3 separate regions of the Homo sapiens genome follow, and regions 1 and 3 are each linked to region 2. Evidence: fine-mapped expression QTL. A gene starts in region 2. Each other region holds a variant in brackets. All regions are shown on one strand. Distances are from middle to middle.

The links.
Region 1: its variant is fine-mapped to the expression of MYLK4 in whole blood (TOPMed, PIP above 0.99). The same link has a PIP of 0.9 or more in atrial appendage, breast, coronary artery, esophagus muscle, gastroesophageal junction and minor salivary gland.
Region 3: its variant is fine-mapped to the expression of MYLK4 in lung (TOPMed, PIP above 0.99). The same link has a PIP of 0.9 or more in whole blood.

The regions. Positions count from the first base shown.
Region 1 is chr6:2,677,150-2,683,367 of GRCh38, reverse strand. It overlaps MYLK4 (myosin light chain kinase family member 4), which reads left to right. Exons shown (of 13, transcript NM_001012418.5): 7 at 206-347; 8 at 3,077-3,147; 9 at 3,960-4,088; 10 at 4,996-5,148. Among named protein-coding and RNA genes, the nearest start is that of LINC01600, 46 kb to the right of the region's middle. The variant C/T (reference allele first, on the strand shown) is at 2,797.
Region 2 is chr6:2,747,442-2,753,659 of GRCh38, reverse strand. MYLK4 (myosin light chain kinase family member 4) reads left to right here and starts at 2,738. Exons shown (of 13, transcript NM_001012418.5): 1 at 2,738-2,924; 2 at 4,254-4,524. The coding sequence starts at 4,366. RefSeq lists a silencer at 871-1,165.
Region 3 is chr6:2,780,962-2,787,179 of GRCh38, reverse strand. It overlaps WRNIP1 (WRN helicase interacting protein 1), which reads right to left. Exons shown (of 7, transcript NM_020135.3): 5 at 3,619-3,774; 6 at 2,777-2,856; 7 at 228-2,173. The coding sequence ends at 1,898. Among named protein-coding and RNA genes, the nearest start is that of WRNIP1, 19 kb to the right of the region's middle. The variant T/A (reference allele first, on the strand shown) is at 3,418.

The DNA.
Region 1 (6,218 bases), 70 kb after region 2:
ATTTCCATTTGTGAGATTAAAGGTATATAAAATACAGGCCTTCAAGATAAGAATCATCTAAGTAAGATAGTAAAGAAGGCAGAGAAATAACTGCACATACACCTTTCAGAAGAGGTAGCAGAACTTGCACGACAAGTCACTACGAGAAAAGCACATGGTGGTAAGGAAATCGGGACTGAGGGTTTCAGTCCTCTTCCCTCTGCAGTGTGGATGGTGGGGAGCTGTTTGACCGCATCATCGATGAGAGCTACAATTTGACGGAGCTTGATACCATCCTGTTCATGAAGCAGATATGTGAGGGGATAAGGCACATGCATCAGATGTACATTCTCCACTTGGACCTGAAGGTAAGGGTGTTTTGTATCCTGTGAGACGTAAGCCCTTCCCAGCTCTTGCACAGTGGGCCCTGTCTGCTATTATATGCCAGCTGGGGAAATTGGTACAGTCATTTCAGAAATGAATAAACATCTGAATTGTTACCCTCATCTCCTTATTCTCAGCTTCTGTCACTCCCTAATATTTGCATGTTCCATCTTCAGGGGTGATATTCAGATTCTTGTAACTTGCCTGCGTTAAGGAAATCTATATGGCAATGGTTTCCCTAAAAGTTTAGAATGAAAACAGTCACCACCACCACAGCGGTATCCACGTGGTAGCCCTCTCATCAGGACAAGTAGGTGAGAGGATTTTAGCTAACTCAGAATTCCCTAAGTAGTAGTCAACCTTTCCAGGTCTCCAAGAATCGCCGGCAGCTCCTCGAGTCACTCAGGAAGCTCCAGACTTTGGGACTTGTTTTTCTGTGGGTTTGCTGCCCTGTGGAATAGAATCCTATGGAGAATGCAGCAGAGGACAGTCGGAAGGATGGGGCCAAAGTGCTAAGGAGAAGAGAGGGTGGGGTGGGCACCCCACTGCCAATGGTGGAAAGCACACAGAAGCCAAGCCGCCTTTCTTTCTCCTCCTATTGATTGCCCCTTCCCTCTTTACCTCTCTCATGTCTCATTATGAAGTTCCTAGAATCGGACTGTATGTAGTCTTAGTTACAACCAATAAAAGACCTAGGCCCAACAACCCTGATCAAGTCCCATATTGGGACTAAGTATCATAAAGTACGTCTTGTGTGGCTTGGTCATTTTCTCATTTCCCTGTTTGCACAGCGTGACAGTAACATAAAATATACAATCTATATAACATCCCATCTATTGCATTCACTAGGGATTGCATAGCTAAATAAATTTAGCCTCCTGAAATAGGTTTCCATGGGCCTCTCTTCCTATAACTTGGCTTCCCTCACTGTCTTGATTTATGTGCCTTGCCTTTCCCATTCACTTTTGAGCAGGAGGAGAGCAGGAGGAAGTGGTTTATAAAATGACAAAGTCAGAGGCTAAAAATCATTAGCAAAACCCTCACTATGAACTGAGTTTGATAATGCATGCTTTCATGGAGCATTTTCATTGAATGTAGATATTCTGCAGATATCCCTACAGGGATTTGATTGGCAACTGGAACTAGGAGCAAACCTATTGTAAGTCAAATGACTCCATATGAGGCTTCATAACATTGATTGAGGACCTGCAGTGGGCAGTTTTAGTTATGGCTTGGATGCAGAGATCATCATAAAGGTGACAGCTGGATGGGTCCTTAAGGAGCTGCTTTTCTGAAAGCTCCTTGGAAGGAAAAGGGCCAAAAATATTGAGTGATTGTCAGTATGTGGGGGGAGATTATAGGTGACTTACAAACAGTCTGTTTTATATTTTTCTGTTTTGCAAAATTTATCCAATGAACATTGTTTAATTTTATCGTCATAAAAAGGCTAACTTATTGAAATGCCCTCAAAACGGTTTCTCTATATCCTGCAAACTTTTTGATGCCACAGTACTCCTTCACAATTGGACAGCTTTATACATGATCCATCAGTGATTTAAGCATGAAACCAAATGGTTCACGTAGCACCCCCTTCTCTATAATGACTTTTACTCACAAACATCTGTTTTAGAGATAGTTTAGAAAAGGGCTTCCAAAGATATTCTGCCCAACCAAATGTACTATTGAATATTGATAAGGAGACATTATGTCATTTCATAATGTGTTTCTGAATTTCTGATCTCATTGGAACCTCTTCTCCACCTGGACAGGTTGGGGAGGGGAGCCTGATCCCACTAAAGGCTGAGGAACGGGATCCTGGGCATTTGGCTTCTGGGATGGTGCCCTCCAGCTTGTAAAGAATTGGGACTGAGGGTTCTTAACTCTGAAAACTTTTTTTCTCTTTTATAAATGGCCTTGACTTTAAATCAAATCTCTTACTTTCCCAAGACCTCTGTTTTTCTACCCCAGTAAACATTAGGTGCACTTGTAAGGCATTCTGTGAACACTGAGTGGCTGCACTACACCCCATTTTCTCCCCCTGCACCCCAAGACTGTCAGGTCAGCAGGCTAAGGTCTTACCAGGGCCTAGCTCCAAGGGAACACTTAGTCAGGGGTTTTAGGCATTGAGACCAAACTCAGCAAAACCTTGGAACTGCTGAGACTGAAGAACGACTGGAGAGAAAAGCCCTCCTCTGCCGTGCGACTTTCCCATAGGCGTTGAGCAAAGGGAAGCTCTGGAGGCCGGAACGTTCACGTGACAGTGCATGTTCAGTGTGGCTGTTTGAATGGAGCAGGTCAATTCCCTTGGAACTCATCAATCTTGGGAAAAATATTTCTCCAAGAAGGGGAAATTCATACTGAATAATTTAGAGGGGCAGATGTCAGGCCTGAGCGGGCCTCCACAGCACATTTGGGAAGGACTGAAGCAACCTC[C/T]TTTTCTTGCTCCCCTCAAGGCCTCTGCCTGAACTCAGGCATTATGGTGAACTGTGAAGCCGTGCAGAGGACAGGCTGGATAATGCAGGGTTGGCAGGATACCCGCAACCTCATCCACCACATAATTAAAGGAGAAAGTACCCACACGGACAAGCCCGCCCCGAAGTGAAAGGCCTGATATGTTTTTTCTGAGCATCGTTGTATTTTTAGTTGTGGTTCAAGGACAATTTGAGTGAATGATGGTTGTTTTCATTGCTAATGTGTCTCTTTCTCCTGGCAGCCTGAGAATATCCTGTGTGTGAATCGGGATGCTAAGCAAATAAAAATTATTGATTTTGGATTGGCCAGAAGGTATGTCTATTTGGACATAGGTGTACGAATGGAGCTGGGGGACATGATGGTTGCCCTTCCTTTGCAAACATATATCTGATCTGCTCTTTGGTTTCATGATCTCATTTATAATTAATTTAACAAAAATTATGTTTGGCCTTAACTTGCTAAATTTGAGACTTGAGTGTTTAGAAGTTTCTATAATGCATGCAGTAAAAAGTATAAAAAATTAAAACCTAATACAGTGAAGTTTATTAAATTAGAAGCCATTAATTTAGCATTTGCAAGAGTTTGTCCCCTCTTTCATATTTGATCCATCTGTACAGAGAAGATTTACTTTAAAAATATTAACAACGTAAGCAAGTTTGCAAAGGGTTCTGGCACATAAAAGATTCTTCAGGGAACAAAGAGTTTACGTGGACACATTAACAATTCAGCACATTAACGACACATATAAAATGGATGTTGTAAATTATTGCAGTACTGTGTTTATTCATTTTACAGGCTTATTCACATCATCCCCATGTCAATGACTATATCAGTTTTCCTCTTGTCATCTTCTGTAATTCAGATGTTCTCATTATTCACAGCAGCTTCTCCAACAACTGGTTCAGCTTTTAAGGTTTCCTAGTATGAATTTTGACTTTTAAATTTTCTGGGGCCTCTTTACAAGTTTTTGAGCCTCTTGCTTGATTGTTTGATTTCCTTCAATGTTTGTTTGTCTGAAGTTTGCTGTATGGCTGAAGTCATTTTGTCTCATAGACTACATCATTTCAGTGTTCACGATTTTTGATCGACACGTCCATCCTTCCACTTTGTCTCTTAAATTGCAGATACAAACCCAGAGAGAAGCTGAAGGTGAACTTTGGAACCCCAGAATTTCTCGCCCCTGAAGTTGTGAACTATGATTTTGTTTCATTTCCCACTGACATGTGGAGTGTGGGGGTCATCGCCTATATGCTGTGAGTAGCTCTCCTCTGTCTCTGACCCTTCTCCAACTCCATGCATATTTTCTGAGGTTTTGCCGTTTTAAATAAAAGCCCCAATTGGGGTATTTAAAAAATAAATAACACTGTCCCATCCTCAGTTGCCTTCTAGGTTTTGTTGACTCCTGTGGGTGAAAGGAGTGAATTCTTTCCCTGCACATCATTTGGAAAAGTAAATGTGTGTCCTCTTCATTAATCACTTTAACTCCTAGGACACAACCTAAAAGCCAAAAATTAATTTAAAAAGCTCACATGGCCTGGCGCGGTGGCTCAAGCCTGTAATCCCAGCACTTTGGGAGGCTGAGGTGGGCGGATCACGAGGTCAAGAGATTGAGACCATCCTGGCCAACATGGTGAAACCCCATCTCTACTAAAAATACAAAAATCAGCCGTGCGTGGTGGCATGCACCTGTAATCCCAGCTACTCGGGAGGCTGCAGGAGAATTGCTTCCAGGAGGTGGAGGTTGCAGTGAAACGAGATCACGCCACTGCACTCCAGCCTGGTGACACAGCGAGACTCCGTCTCAAAAAAAAAAAAAAAAAACTGATCTCCTAAATGACTCAGGCTAGCCTCACCCCTCAGAGGTGACATGCCTAGCGTTTGCCATCTGAGCATGTAGTAGCACTTTGCAAGCTGAAAAGTGCTTTAAAAAGGAAGCTGATATTCATATTCATATTCTGTTATTGCTGCAGTTGTTCAGTTAGGAGTTGGGTGGGGGCGGCAAGCATTTTCTTGATTACAATAATATGTTATAAAATTATGCTTCAGGATTAGGTTATTTTCCTTCTCTCACCTTTAAATGGCACAACCAGAAAAGCAATCTGTATGGAAAGGGGTTGAGGCTGTTTAAAAAATACTCACTCTGGACCCCGTGTCCTCCAGACTTAGCGGTTTGTCGCCTTTCCTGGGTGACAATGATGCTGAGACGCTGAACAACATCCTGGCCTGCAGGTGGGACTTAGAGGATGAAGAATTTCAGGACATCTCGGAGGAGGCCAAGGAGTTCATCTCTAAGCTTCTGATTAAGGAGAAGAGGTAACGCAAGTTCGTCCTGTGCTCCGGGCGCAGTAGGGATGATAAGGAAGCAGGGCCTACCACCAGGGCTGTTCGAATTTATTCTCTTACTAACATCTGTGATGCTTGCGCAAAGTCATGGATAGAATGAGGTTTGAGCCTCTTGACCCAGTCTACTGAGATCTGGGACTGCTTTGGTCATGAAGCTACACAAACCTTTCTCTTCCTGCCATTTATCATATGGCCATACCAGCCATGGACTCCTGCTGGGCCTTAGTTGACTCACTGTCAAAATGGAAGGCTTGGGAGAAGTATTTCTAGGATTCCTTTCACCTCTACTAAGCTGTATATGGTTCCGTGTAGCTGAATCTTTAACTACCATTTCATTTGGGAAACTACTGTGGGCCAGATCATGCCAAGTGCTTTGTAGACATTATCTCTTTTAACTACCACCCCTGACCCCAACTCCATGAGGCAGAAATCGGGTAGAAGATCCCACGTGGTTTGCCCATCATCATACCGCCAGTAATTGGCAGAACAGAGGCTCAAACAGATAGTTCTCCTTCCCCAACGGCCGCACACTTGGCTGTTATTTATTACATGGCCCTCTATTTTCTGTTATGCTAAAACCACATTAATTCAAAATTCAGTGAATGAAAAAGAGTGACATTGAAATATAGGGATTTGCATTTTAGAATCATAGAAGGGGAAGGGCATTGTGATTAACCCATCAAACACGCTGTTTCAGATGGCTTTATACCTGAGCCGTATAATGATTGAAGTAGTTAAGGTTTTCAGGGTCAATAGCACTTGCCTTATCGTTTTATTATCTTTATGGCTTTAAAGTCACTAATACACATGGCTGTGGATCAACAGGTAGAAGGGTGTCACAGGGAGTGGGGAAACAGTGTGGGCAGTGGGTCTGGCACACAGCTTGGCAGGAGATGCTTTCATTCAAGTGTTGATCACCTACTGTGTGCCAGGAAATGTGTCATGTGCTAAGAATAGAGGCACAAATCCAGTCCCTGCCTATAGTAACTCACCATCTAATAAAAGGGATAGATATTTTTTAAAAAGATGTAATAAAATGT
Region 2 (6,218 bases):
TAGATGCAGTCCTTTGTCAAATATGTGACTTCACAGTATTTTCTATACATCTGTAGCTGGTCTTTTCATTTTCATAATAGTGTCTTTTCATTTTCCTAATAGTGTTTTTTCAAAGGCAAACGTTTTGAATTTTGAAGAAGTGCAATTTATCAATCTTCGTTTTTATGGGTCGTATTCAGTGGTGATTTTTGAAAGTAAGGAAGTTCTATTGTAATGTGGGTAACAGGGATGCAGTAGCTTTTTATTTGCATTTGGGTATTTGTACTGTTGCTCCGCTTTTGTGTGTAAACATTCAAGAGGTCTTGTTCTGGAAACATTCAGAACGCTGTGTAGAAACAAAAACTCTTAGTGTAATCCAGCCGGGTTTCAATGCCAACCCGTAGACAAGAGCTGTCGACGATGTTTCTTCATGTGGCTCCTTTGACAACACAGTCTCTTACTCAGCTAATGGAAATGTCCCTTGAAAAAAATCAAGGGATTCTTTTCCATGGCTCTGTAGGGTGCTGTTTTCCTGATGTTGGTATTTTTTAGAGAAGTATAACTCCAAAATATGGAAATACTGGAAAAGTGTTCCTGGGCCTGCTCATATTCCTCACTAATGAATTTTTCCGGGTATAAGAGCATCTTTAAGCATGCAGAACATTTTATGGGTATGGACTTAGGATCCTGAGGCTAGGCTGATAGACCAGAATGAGTATGCATGTATAACCTGTTTTTTTGTGGTCAAGGGTTGTGCCAGCAGTGTGCTTGTCCTGTATGCCATCGGAAGCTGGGAACAGTGTGATGCAGCAGAACCAGACAATCAGTCACTTTTAGCATGGATTATTTTAATTGACTTGCTTTTTAGGGCAAGTAGACACAATTAAAGATCATTCTATCTAGTCATTAATCAAATATGTATTGAATGTATATTGTGCATGGAAATGTCTATATGTGGATGCCTTCCAAATTCTTATCTCCAGCCTACACCCCTCCCCGGAACTCCAGTTTCTATCTCCACAGCCTATTCAACTTGAACGTTTAATGGACTTGCCAAAGACTTCATGCCTGACCTTTCCCTCCAGAGTTGCCCTTCCCACAGCCGTCTCCATCTCAGTTAATGTTCACTCTGTCTTTCAAGTGCTCAGAAGAAAATATGCAAAGGTGTCTACCATCTTTCTTTCATACCCCATACCCAATCTATCATAAATCCTACTGATTCTAAATGTACTGTGGAATCCTGCATGGGATTCTGGAACAGAAAAGGGGCATTTGGGGAAAAAAAAAACCCAGCAACAATAAAGTATTGAGTTTAGTTAATAATAACGTTCACCATGGTTCATTAATTGTGACAAGTATACCATACCAACGTAAGATGTTAAAAACAGAGGATTCGGGGTGCAGGGCAAGGGGAACTCTGAACTACCTTTGCACCTTTTCTGTAGATGTAAAACTACTCTAAAAGGAAAAGTTTATTACAAAAAAATAAGCTAAGGAGCAGATTCTCCTGGCCTCTGGCTCACTCAAGCCTGTGGTTGGTTTGCTGGAGCCAACGAGATAGGAAGTCTGCTTTTGCGTGGTGGTGGTCCGGGTGGAGGATGTGGTTGGATCAGCAGCAGCCCACACACATCTTGCCTCTGGCAGGGCATTTGTTGCCTTATCAGTACTTCTACACAATTTAATTATACTAACAAAATTGGTAACCTCAAACCAGCTTAGTCTTTGTATAATACTTTTGTCAGATAATTTATCTCCACAAATTTATAGTTCCACTTCATTACTTTTGCTGAAGAACAAAGCTCTCCAATCTGAAAAATAACAAGCGTTTTGTGTTTTAAAAAAGATTTTGCTGTAATTCATTAATACTACATAAAATGGAAAAATATGTATTTTTATTTCACATGGAATGCATCGATCTGAATTAAAAATAAGGTTTTTTTTTTAAAAGAAGCAGAAGAGCAGCAGAGGCTGGTGTTAGAATGGGGCATAGAGGGGCTAACACAGGCTCCAAATAAGAGGTGACAATTGGCCAGGCCCTGAAAAATTGCAGGGTTTTCAAGACTGCAAAGTCCAGCCTCTGGGCAATCAAAGTTTTATGCCACTTCAGTGAATCTAGGGATGCACTACTGTGAGAGTCGGGCAGGTGGGTTGAAATTCCCCTTTCTTGGTCTGTGCAGAAAACTACGGATGAAGTCCTAGTGTTGCTTAAGGAGAATTTATGAAAAATTTATTCCTGTTTCCTGGATGCCTGTGCCTTTGACCTTTCCCTAGAGCTAGAAATGGTTGGAGACTTTGCAAACATCTTTAAGAACTGAGAAAAATAAAACAAACTTGCTAACTGCTTTCAGAAGATCTTCTATATTGCAGTTGGATATGCTCAAAGCGTAAGATGGGCAAACAGAGGTGGCTGTGGGGTTGCCACACCTGGCATTTTCCCTACTGGGGGAAATTTAATGAGCACTTAAATAATCCTGAGTCTGAAAGGGGCAGAAGGTCCAGGCAGATGATTGCCGAGGACAAATCTAGCTTTGTAAATCCGAGAGTATTGACACAATGATACGAGGGAAAGGTGAAGGTGATATTTCATCCAGTGTTCCCGGTTCATCCTCTCCTTACCTGACCTCTGAAATGGAGCCATTGGCCTTGAAAAGCCTGGTGTCTAAAATTAATATTCTTCCCCATCTGACTAAGAAGGCAACAGCTGAGCAACGTGAGATCAAGAGCCATATTAATTTAAACAGGGGCTGAAAGTGGCATTTGAGAGAGAAGATACTTCCTCTCGTAGTGGACACTTGTCTTTTCAGAAGATTTATACGACTGAGAGTCAAAACTTTTACCAGAGACTTTCATAGTCAGTTTGAATTCTGCAAAATTTCTCTTTATCTTCTGGAATGTATGCTCTAGACTTGGAGTGGCTCAAGCTCTTCGATGTGATCCTATCAATGGTAATTATCTTTGTTTATTGTTATAACCTCTCAAATCTCCTCCCCTTTTTTCTAAGTTACCTTCAATAACAAATTGTACCAAACTTCAGGTAGAGCTTAATGTTTAATATTTCTTTGCAAAATTATTGTATCTTAATCCTAAGCTTTTGTTTTAATACATTAATTTTGTGTGGCTTCCTGATCCAACTTGAGTTTCATCTGCAATTAACCATAGTATTTTAGTCGTAGTTTGCCTTAGAAATAGCCATGCATTTGTTTCCTTATTTTAATAATTTTTTCAGGGCAATTTGAAAGAATGCTAAGAATGATCTGTAATATATCTGTAGAGCTCTGGTTGATAGTATTAATATTTGCATTTTTATTTGTTTGAATGTAAGCTCTTTATGTGGATAAGTATAATTTGTTAGAGCAGTGAATTTTAAACACTTTGGAACTCAAGAGTATCATTTTACTATAGGAACTGACAAAACAAAATATTAAGTTTTCTGATGAGAATCACAATACGGTTTTTAAGCGGAGAAAATGCTCGAAGAGGCGCTTTTCGGAAAATCTCCACCAGGGGGCCTCAGTTGTCAGCCATGCGGAACTAGCACAAATTCAAATGTCTCTCCCTCTCCCTGCCTCTCTATGCAATCAAGTGATGTGTACATATAGACATGCGTATATGTCTCTAGTATCAAAGCGAATTATGTATGCTGCATTACTTCATTTGCGAGGAAAGTATTTTAAGGAGAGTGAAAAGACTCTGAACTTCTCGGTACATAGCTGTTAATGCAGATGCAAGGAAAGGTATCTGGGAGTGCTGTCCACGTGAGAAGACTGTAAGGAAATAAATTTCTTTTCACAAATAAACACCACACATTTTAAGGCATAGGTAGAGAAGAGTTCTGGAAAAGGACTCATTCGGGAGCGATCCCTCTGCAGAGGGAGGCCAGGGGAAGCAGAGAGACCCCTTCTGTGATAAGCCCTTCCCACGGGGCTGCAAAACCTGCGGTTCCAATTAAACCCAAAGATACTTTATAATTTACATCCAAGCTGGCCACTTGATCTACGGCTTGTTTTGTGCAATAAGGAGCATATTTCATCACCAGTGAATCTTGACATTGCTTCTTACTGTTTGCTTTTGTAGTTTTAAAGTGAAAAAATTTTTTTTCCTTTTAAAGTTCCAATGTTGGAAACTCAATATGAATGTTAGTATTTCTTTTCCTGATTTTGGATCCTCTCTCCAGTTTAAACAGAAGGGACTTCCAAATTCTCACTGGTCATTTTCTCAAGAAGTCAAATGCATGAATACGTGATGAGAACTTTTTGTGTTTCCTTTCTTTGCAGTCAAGAGAAAGAAGCACTGAAGAGTCATAATTGTGTCCTGATTTATAAATCGGAGACAGAGGGAGACGAAAACCACACTCCAGAAAGTAGCTTAATCGGACTCACTACTAAGATGTTAAAAGTGAAGAGGCTGGAAGAATTCAACACGTGTTATAACAGCAACCAGCTGGAGAAAATGGCCTTTTTTCAGTGCAGGGAAGAGGTGGAGAAAGTGAAGTGTTTTCTGGAAAAAAATTCTGGGGACCAGGATTCAAGATCTGGACATAATGAGGTAATCATGTTCTAATTTAGTCTCCTAAAAAGTATTCATTCTATCTTATCTTTTCTAATGTCATGGAGCCGCTTGTGAGTACAATTAAGGAAAGTTTATGAATAGGCATCATTCCACTTTGCTTCAGTGAGAATTGTGTGTGTCGACTATACAATTGTGTTTGGTAAATAATTAGGAGGCCTTTGAAACTGCATTTCTGCCAGCAGTCGACTTCACTTTTAGTTAGTGGCTTAGGAGTTATACAGCCAGCTTGCAGAAATGAAGAAGAATCCTTTAGCATGATGGATTTGGGCTTGAAATTCAGAAAAGGGCTCTGAGAGGCACACTGTTCTGCAGAAAGAAGTTTCTCCTTTTTCCTTCAGATCTTGAGTTCCTCACGCGGTAGACAGCAGAGCTGTTGATAGTGAAGTCCAGAGAAGGGACAAGAAAGACTTGCTGATGGCACGACGGTGGGGCTTGTACCCTCCTCTGTGCAGAACGAGAGTTCTGAGCCCCATTCCAGCTGCTCGTTCTTGGGAAAAATATTAATTTAACCAAGGGCTTGCCACATCTGAATTAGTGAGATAATAGCAATTGTGAAAATTAAGTGTGATCACGTCTGTAAAGCACTCCGCCTAGTATCTGTCACTAGAGTCAGCATTTAATATGTGTTAGCGGCAGCAGCAATTACCTCCCCTGCCTTGGCCCAGTCAGTTCCTGCCCATCATCCGTTGGCTCCTTGCCCGGTGGGAGCATCAAGCATTTTGCCCGTGCCTTCATTCCAGCACATGTGGTGGTTTTGAACATGTTGATCACCTTTCTCTAGACAAGGCTCCTTAAGGTTGGGAAACCTCGTGTTATTTGTTCATGTTTCCTCAGTTGCTTTCCTAGTAACGGAAACAAATAGGCACCAAAAGTGTTTTTGGAATGCACAGATCTATTTAAGTGAATTCTGGTTGAGGGCTGGGAACCATTATTTTTGATAATCAGAGCAAGTGATTCTTATCAGGCAGGTTTGGAAAACATCCTTCTTTGCCCAGCTACTGTTCTAAAAAACACTATTCAGGTAGGAAGGGCGTTTCTAACAATGCAATAGACAATGAAATAGAGAGATTGTATATAAAAGGTCTAGGAGGCTTTTTATTGTAAGTGAATAAGAAATGACAAAATGTGCTGGAGAGAATAAATGAATCAGATTGAAACATTTTTTTGAGACCTCTGCTTTCCCCATGAGTTCAATATAGACCAAGGAGAAATATCTACAGGCAAAATTAAGTGAGACATGACTTTCTCATTAGGGTTTTCAGTGGTACAAACAGGATAATTTTTTCTGTTTATTAATTTCGGTAGGACAGAGAAGACAAAATATTCTTCTTGGAGAACTTTGAAATCATCAACTAACTGTAATAGTTTATATGAATTTCATTATCTTTCAAGTACTGTTTTTCTCCAAAATCTATGATACAATTTTTATAAATGGGCAACACTCTAAAGAGTGAGATAAGCAGGACACATGGCTCATACCTGTAATCCCAGCACTTTGGGAGGCTGGGGCAAGAGAATCACTGGAGGCCAGGAGTTTGAGACCAGCCCAGGTGACATGGTGAGATGTCTATTTCTACAAAAATAAAAAAATACAAATAAAATAGCGGGCATGGTGGCACACATCTGTAGTCCCAGCTACTTGGGAGGCTGAGGCAGGAGGATTGCTTGAG
Region 3 (6,218 bases), 34 kb before region 2:
CGCCTGTCATCCCAGCACTTTGGGAGGCTGAGGTGGGTGGATCACCCGAGGTCAGGAGTTCGAGACCAGCCTGACCAACATGGTGAAACCCCCGTCTCTACTAAAAATACAAAAATTAGCCTTGTGTGGTGGTGTGCGCCTGTAATCCCAACTACTTGGGAGGCTGAGGCAGGAGAATCGCTTGAACCTGGGAGGTGGAGGTTGCAGTGAGCCGAGATCGCATCATTGCCCTCCAGCCTGGGAAAAAGAGCAAGAGTTGGTCTCATAAATAAATAAATTTATTGAATAAAAAAAGAAACTTCCCTAGAACTGAAAGGAGTTTCCAGATTGAAAGGCCCAACAAGTACCCAGTGCAGACTTTTAAAACACGGGGAGCAAAGACAGAAGAGTCTACAAGTTGATAGAGGTTACAAACAAAAGACCACACACATCAGGATGCCTTCAAACTTGACAACAATGTGGGAAAGTGTAAAACAATGCACAAGTAATTTCTTACCTACAATTTATTACTAGCCAAACCCTCAGACACGTCTGAAGGTACAATAAAAGCATTTTGAGTCTCCTGAGGTCTAAAAATACTTTTCCTCCACACACCCCTGCTCCATAAAGCTACTAGAGGGTACATGCCACCTGTGCCAGAAAGCAGTCAGTCCTGTCATCAGATGGGGTGCAGGGAGAAGCAGAGGAAAGCTCCAGGGTGATGATGAAGGGAGATTCTGGGGATGGCAACTGCACACTGCAGTGCAACCACTCCAGACAGAAGGAGGGAGGCCAGTCGGGCCAAGCCTCTGCAACATACAGTCCCTCCAGCCTGATAAAACTACTAGAGGATGGGTTGCACTGAAATAGCGGAATAAACCAGTAAGGCGGGATGGAGCATCCAGAAAATGGGCATCTCACTCAGAATAAAGGCAGAGGACGTCCCAGGCCAACAGCCGGCAGCCTTCCAGACATGGCAGGAGGACCCCAGGAGGGATCACGCAACAGCAGGAGGAGAACCGACTACCTGAAGGGGCCATCCTTGTGGGCATATGCACGACATGCAACTAAGGAGAGGGAGAGGAAGTAGCAGTAGGGACAAATAACTCTTAACTGAGCAGAAGGAGTGGCGTATTTTGTGTTCAGGACACACATAAAGTAAAAGAAAAACGACTGTTTAGAAATATGGAGCTGCAAGAAGAAACCAGGACAAGTGGGAAAAAATGGGCATGGGACTACTGGAGTCTTCCACAAGCCATTTAAAGAATTCCTTTATGTATTCCTTTAAAGAGATCAGAGTTAACTTTCAACAAGATAACACTGACTTCTTAACTTAAGCTCCCCACTCTTCCCATCTGGGGTGATTTCTCCTTCCCAGTATCCACCCACCAAATGCAATGGTGACAACGCTGGTACCTAGCATCCAGGCAGGAAAACCATGACAGAATCGAAGAGTACTTTGAAATAGTTTTATTGGCTCGTAAGACCTTTGCATATAAAAAAAATACCCAAAACACTATGCAGTATTAAATCACAATTACATTTTTTTACCAATTAAAACTACCCAGAATATACATTTTTTAAAGAAAAGAAAATCCTACAGAACTGAATTCTGAAATGACATTATGACTTAAATACTATGACAAAATAGATAATTCCTTATAACATTAATTCATTGCACAAAGCTGCCAGGTATTTTCATAAGCATAACCGCTGCACCGAGTGCAAATGAACACAATTTCAAAGTTACACATTTATTCGAAAGAACTGCGCCTCCACCTATGGAACTCTTAAATTTCTGGCACAAAATGTTGGTCTGTTCTAACTTCCACCAGGCAACCAACTTTGCAATCCACTAACTTTCTTTCTGGCCCTCCCTTAAAAAAGCAACATCCTTCTGCTGTCGTGCCCTGAGGAGTCAGCACCTCCTCTGCTTGAAGAAATCTACCCCCCTCAACTCTTCAGGCAGGTACTCCTGATCCACAGGCTCGCTGTACATGGGGTTGTACTTGTAGCCTTTGCCATAGCCCAAATCCTTCATCAGCCTAGTGGGCGCGTTCCTCAGGTGCAGGGGCACGGGGGGCAGTGGCCCCTGGTGGTTCCTCAGGCAGGCTTTGACGTTGTTGTAGGCGCTGTACACCTCAATGGACTTTGGGGCTCTGGCAAAGTAGACCACACACTGGGCCAGAAGCACCTACCAATGACACAGAGGACACATTTTACTAGCAAGATGCCAAGCTTCTGTTCTGCAGAGCCCCTTCTGATACACAGCTCTAGGTAATTCTGAGAAGATCCCCACATGCTTTTATTATCCCCCTTTTGCGCCTACAGTCTGGATAACCACCTACGACAGACAGAAGAAATTCTCATGAGGTGAAACGAGAGGCAAACCAGGTGAGTGGTTTTCATTTTTTTTTTTAACTGAAGGACTTTTTACTACATTAAATTTTTCTTAAGCCCCCAATATATAAAAGAGATGAATATGAAGCTGCTCTGGGGGCGAACTTGCAGAGGCTTTGCTGTTCAGCTCCTTTAACCTTTCTGCTCCCTGGAACATATGGAGCATGTGCTCTGAACCCCGGAATCCCGAGAACAGTTTGAAACATGACCTCGTTGACACAGAAGGTTTCCCTCTCTAGGAGTCTAAGAGTCTACAATTGGAATTCCAAAGCCAAGCAGCATACTCAGTGGGTCCAATACACCAATGGTGAAGGAGGGACATTTATTCAAATCTACAAAGGGACAGAGCACGAGAGAGAAAAGAAGTGATTTGCAAGAAATGAGCTGATTACTTTACCTCACATTCAGGCATGCCTATAAAATGACAGCCTTGGTAGGCAGCAACCGCTTGTGTTAACGCAGACGGGTCTGCCAGACCTGCCACACACAGAGACAAAGGAGAGTTTCAGTCATGACACACACTGTCCTCCTGGCCTATGTGCAGGCGACCACAGACCACCACTGCTTGTACACTTGGTGACCAAAACAATCCCATGTAGCAAAACAGCCTGACTTAGCTCTAGTCTCTGATCCCATGAACTTATGCAAGAAATATTGAGAGTGGTTACTGTGTGGTGTTAAGAACTGTTTCCTTGTGGATAAAAACTCTGCATCTAGAAAAACATGAGTCTCTGTATAACAAACATAAGAAGTGAAGGCTATGGAGACATTCACCAGGATGGAAACACTAAAAACAAAACATCCCCTAAGACCAAAGAAGAGGAGAGCTTTCCTGATCTTTTTCTTCATATAGTGTCTAGAGTCTTCCATTTCTACCTTGGGAGCTGTCCAAAGAAAACCTTGAACACCTGACTTAAAGCAAATTTAAAAGCAGCTCATCTATTGCAATACTCTGAATAGCCACTCATGTTAGTAAAAACATTCCCGAAGAGGAAACAGAAAATGGTGACTTTATGAACATAAACATTCAAAAGCACA[T/A]ACACCAGGAAATAAACGACTGAGCTCAGGCATAAAGTCTTATCTTCTCCTGCCAGTCTCACATAGCCCTGAGACATTCTTCCTGCTACCCCCGCCCACCCCGCCCTGCAAAAAAAAAAAAAAAAAAAGCCACGATGTAACTGTTAGCCATTTCCCCACCCTCATGGACATAGGACTCCGGGACCCTCCCATCACACTCACCTATGTCCTCGCTGGCAAACCTGACAAGCCTCCGTGCCACGTAGAGTGGGTCCTCTCCTCCCTCGAGCATGCGAGCCAGCCAGTAGAGGGAGGCGTTCTGGTCTGAGCCCCGCATGGACTTGTGCAGGGCGGAGATGCAGTTGTAATGCTCCTCACCTGACATCACAAAGAGCACCACTCACACAGAGCTCACAGGAGGGGCGCCCAAGCCATCTTCACCTCCGCCAGCTGACTTCCAGAAAGCCTGAACGAATAAAGGCCCTGAGAAAGCCGAGGAGAGGTTTGGGCAGCTGCCTTAACCGTGCTCTGAGTGGGGTGCACCAGCTGCTGGGGCTTAATCCCAGTCCTATTCAGGGGAAGAGGCTGCTGCAGCAGAAACCTGTGGCTGTCGACATGGAGTGCACGCACACGCACAGAGGCAGGAGGGAGGAAAGGTGGTCCTCCCAGCTGGTGGATTTGCCAGAGACAAGAGTGGAGGGGGACGAGTCTTCTGTTCTGGCTCTATCCCGTGGCCCACCATCTACTGGAGGAAAAGCAACGGTGGGCCTGCTCGGAGCCAGGAGGATGTAGAGCCAAGTGGCAAGGGCAGCTGTTATAGCCCATCTGTTCCTCAGTGTCATTTCCAGCTGCCTTTCTGATATCCGAAGCCTGTGGTCATTTAAACCTCCTTCTGCCAGCCTTGGTGTGGGGACACCTGTGTGGCAGGGTCCCAGAAGGACCGACACGTGGACTAACCAGCTTCCGCCCTGAAGTGGACGGAAGCCCACTCTCTCACCGCCTGGTCTTACTACTCCATTTTTACCCTAGATTCACATGAAATCAGTGAAATGTGCTTTAAAAAAAGGCATATTTAAGGGCAAAAAAATGACAGCTAAACAGTTCTCAGGAACTAAGCAGTGGCACCTGCATACATTTCACTATTCTCTGGCCATCGTCCCTTAGGTAAGTTCAAGGAGGGGGCACCCTCCTCACGAGAAAGCGGAGGATGGTGTTCCCGTGAGTCTCACTCCTCCCAGAGGAGCACCTGGTCTGTGCTCAGCATAAGCCCATGTCCACAATACGACTGGCGCCAGCCACAAACCCTGGCAGCTGAGCTCGCTGGTAAGATGACAGTTGGTCTTCAGGTGGAGAAGAGAGCAAGCGAAGATGCTGGCCTCCCACAGGGGAAAGACCTGCAGGACCCACGGCTCAGCCTGAGTGATTCTGGTTTCTGAGAGCCAGGGCAGATGGATGGGTCAGCCCAGCTACTGGATTTCTGAGAACAAACTGAGTGTCTCCTGTGCAGGGCTCCCCTGGTGAAGTCAGAGTGCTATGGACACTGGCCGAGAGGGTGTCCTGGATGACATCTGCATGGTTCTGGCCCACTCCCTCACCCTGCTGGCCCAGGCACTCAGGCTACGCTCTGCTCCTCTGCAGGGTGGAGGAAGGCGGGGAAGAGGGTAGCAGGTAACAGGCCTGGCTAAACTCACGGGCATGGGGGCTGGAAGAAACTACCCACACCACTTTATGTCAAATTTAAACTCCCCCTACACAGGTTAGTCATCTTTTCCCACTTTGTCAATGCCAGGGGCAATACCACCAGTATAATGGACAAGAGCACAGGCTCTGGGACCAAACAGCCTGGGCTGGACCCCCAAGCTCATGGGCCATGGGCAAGTTCCTGATCCTCACTGTGCCTCAGGTTTCTCATCTGTAAAATGGGAAAAACGAGACCACTTACCTCACAGGGCTGTATTAAATAACACACGCCTGGCACAGAGCAGGCACTGTAAAAAGATTCTTTTGCATCAGTGATAGATACTAGTATTATTCTATGCTACCTTCCATGTTTGCTTTTATTACACACTGCTTTATAACCTGAAATCTGACGACTTCTATAGAACCCCGATGTCAATGCATGGCAGAGAGTTTGCTCTCATTTAGAAATTCCTTCACTCTGATGCAGAAACATCACTGGATCCTACTAGTGGGTAACTATGAACTAGGTGGCATATACAAAAATAATCACAACTCTGGGGGTGGGTCTTTGTCTCACTGGAGTTATAAAAAGGCCCAAGAGTATAAGCTAACAGGTTTCCAGGGCAATGCTTCCACTATCCCTATTTATAGAGCAAAGCCTGTAAAAGCAGCTTTCTCCAAGATCTGAATGATATTTATGTGTCTGCGGATCCACTGTGGGGCAGACATGTTGCACTGGGGTGGGGTGTGTAAACACACTCATACTGGGAAGATGTATAGGATGTGGGGTTCTTAAGGCGCTGGCACTAGGCAGCGGCACTAGGCAGCCTCCACCACCCCCCAGCTCCAAGCTATAGACAAGGTGATCCCCACTGTGCAGAGCTCTGCAACGTGGAGCTCAGGAAGTGGGATTCCTAGGACTGAACCCCTCCAAGATCCGCTCTGTATGTGCATGGACGGGTGACCCCTCTCAGGAGCATGATGTAATGGGTGAGATCAGTAACAGCATGGCAAGGCTGGTGTGGAGGCAAATGCGGACGGGGGGAAGGACAGTCTTGGGAACCAGTAAGACCTGGATTTACGGGTCAGTTTCACCACTTGCTTTGTTATCTTAAAATGGGGGTAATATTAATAGCTATCTC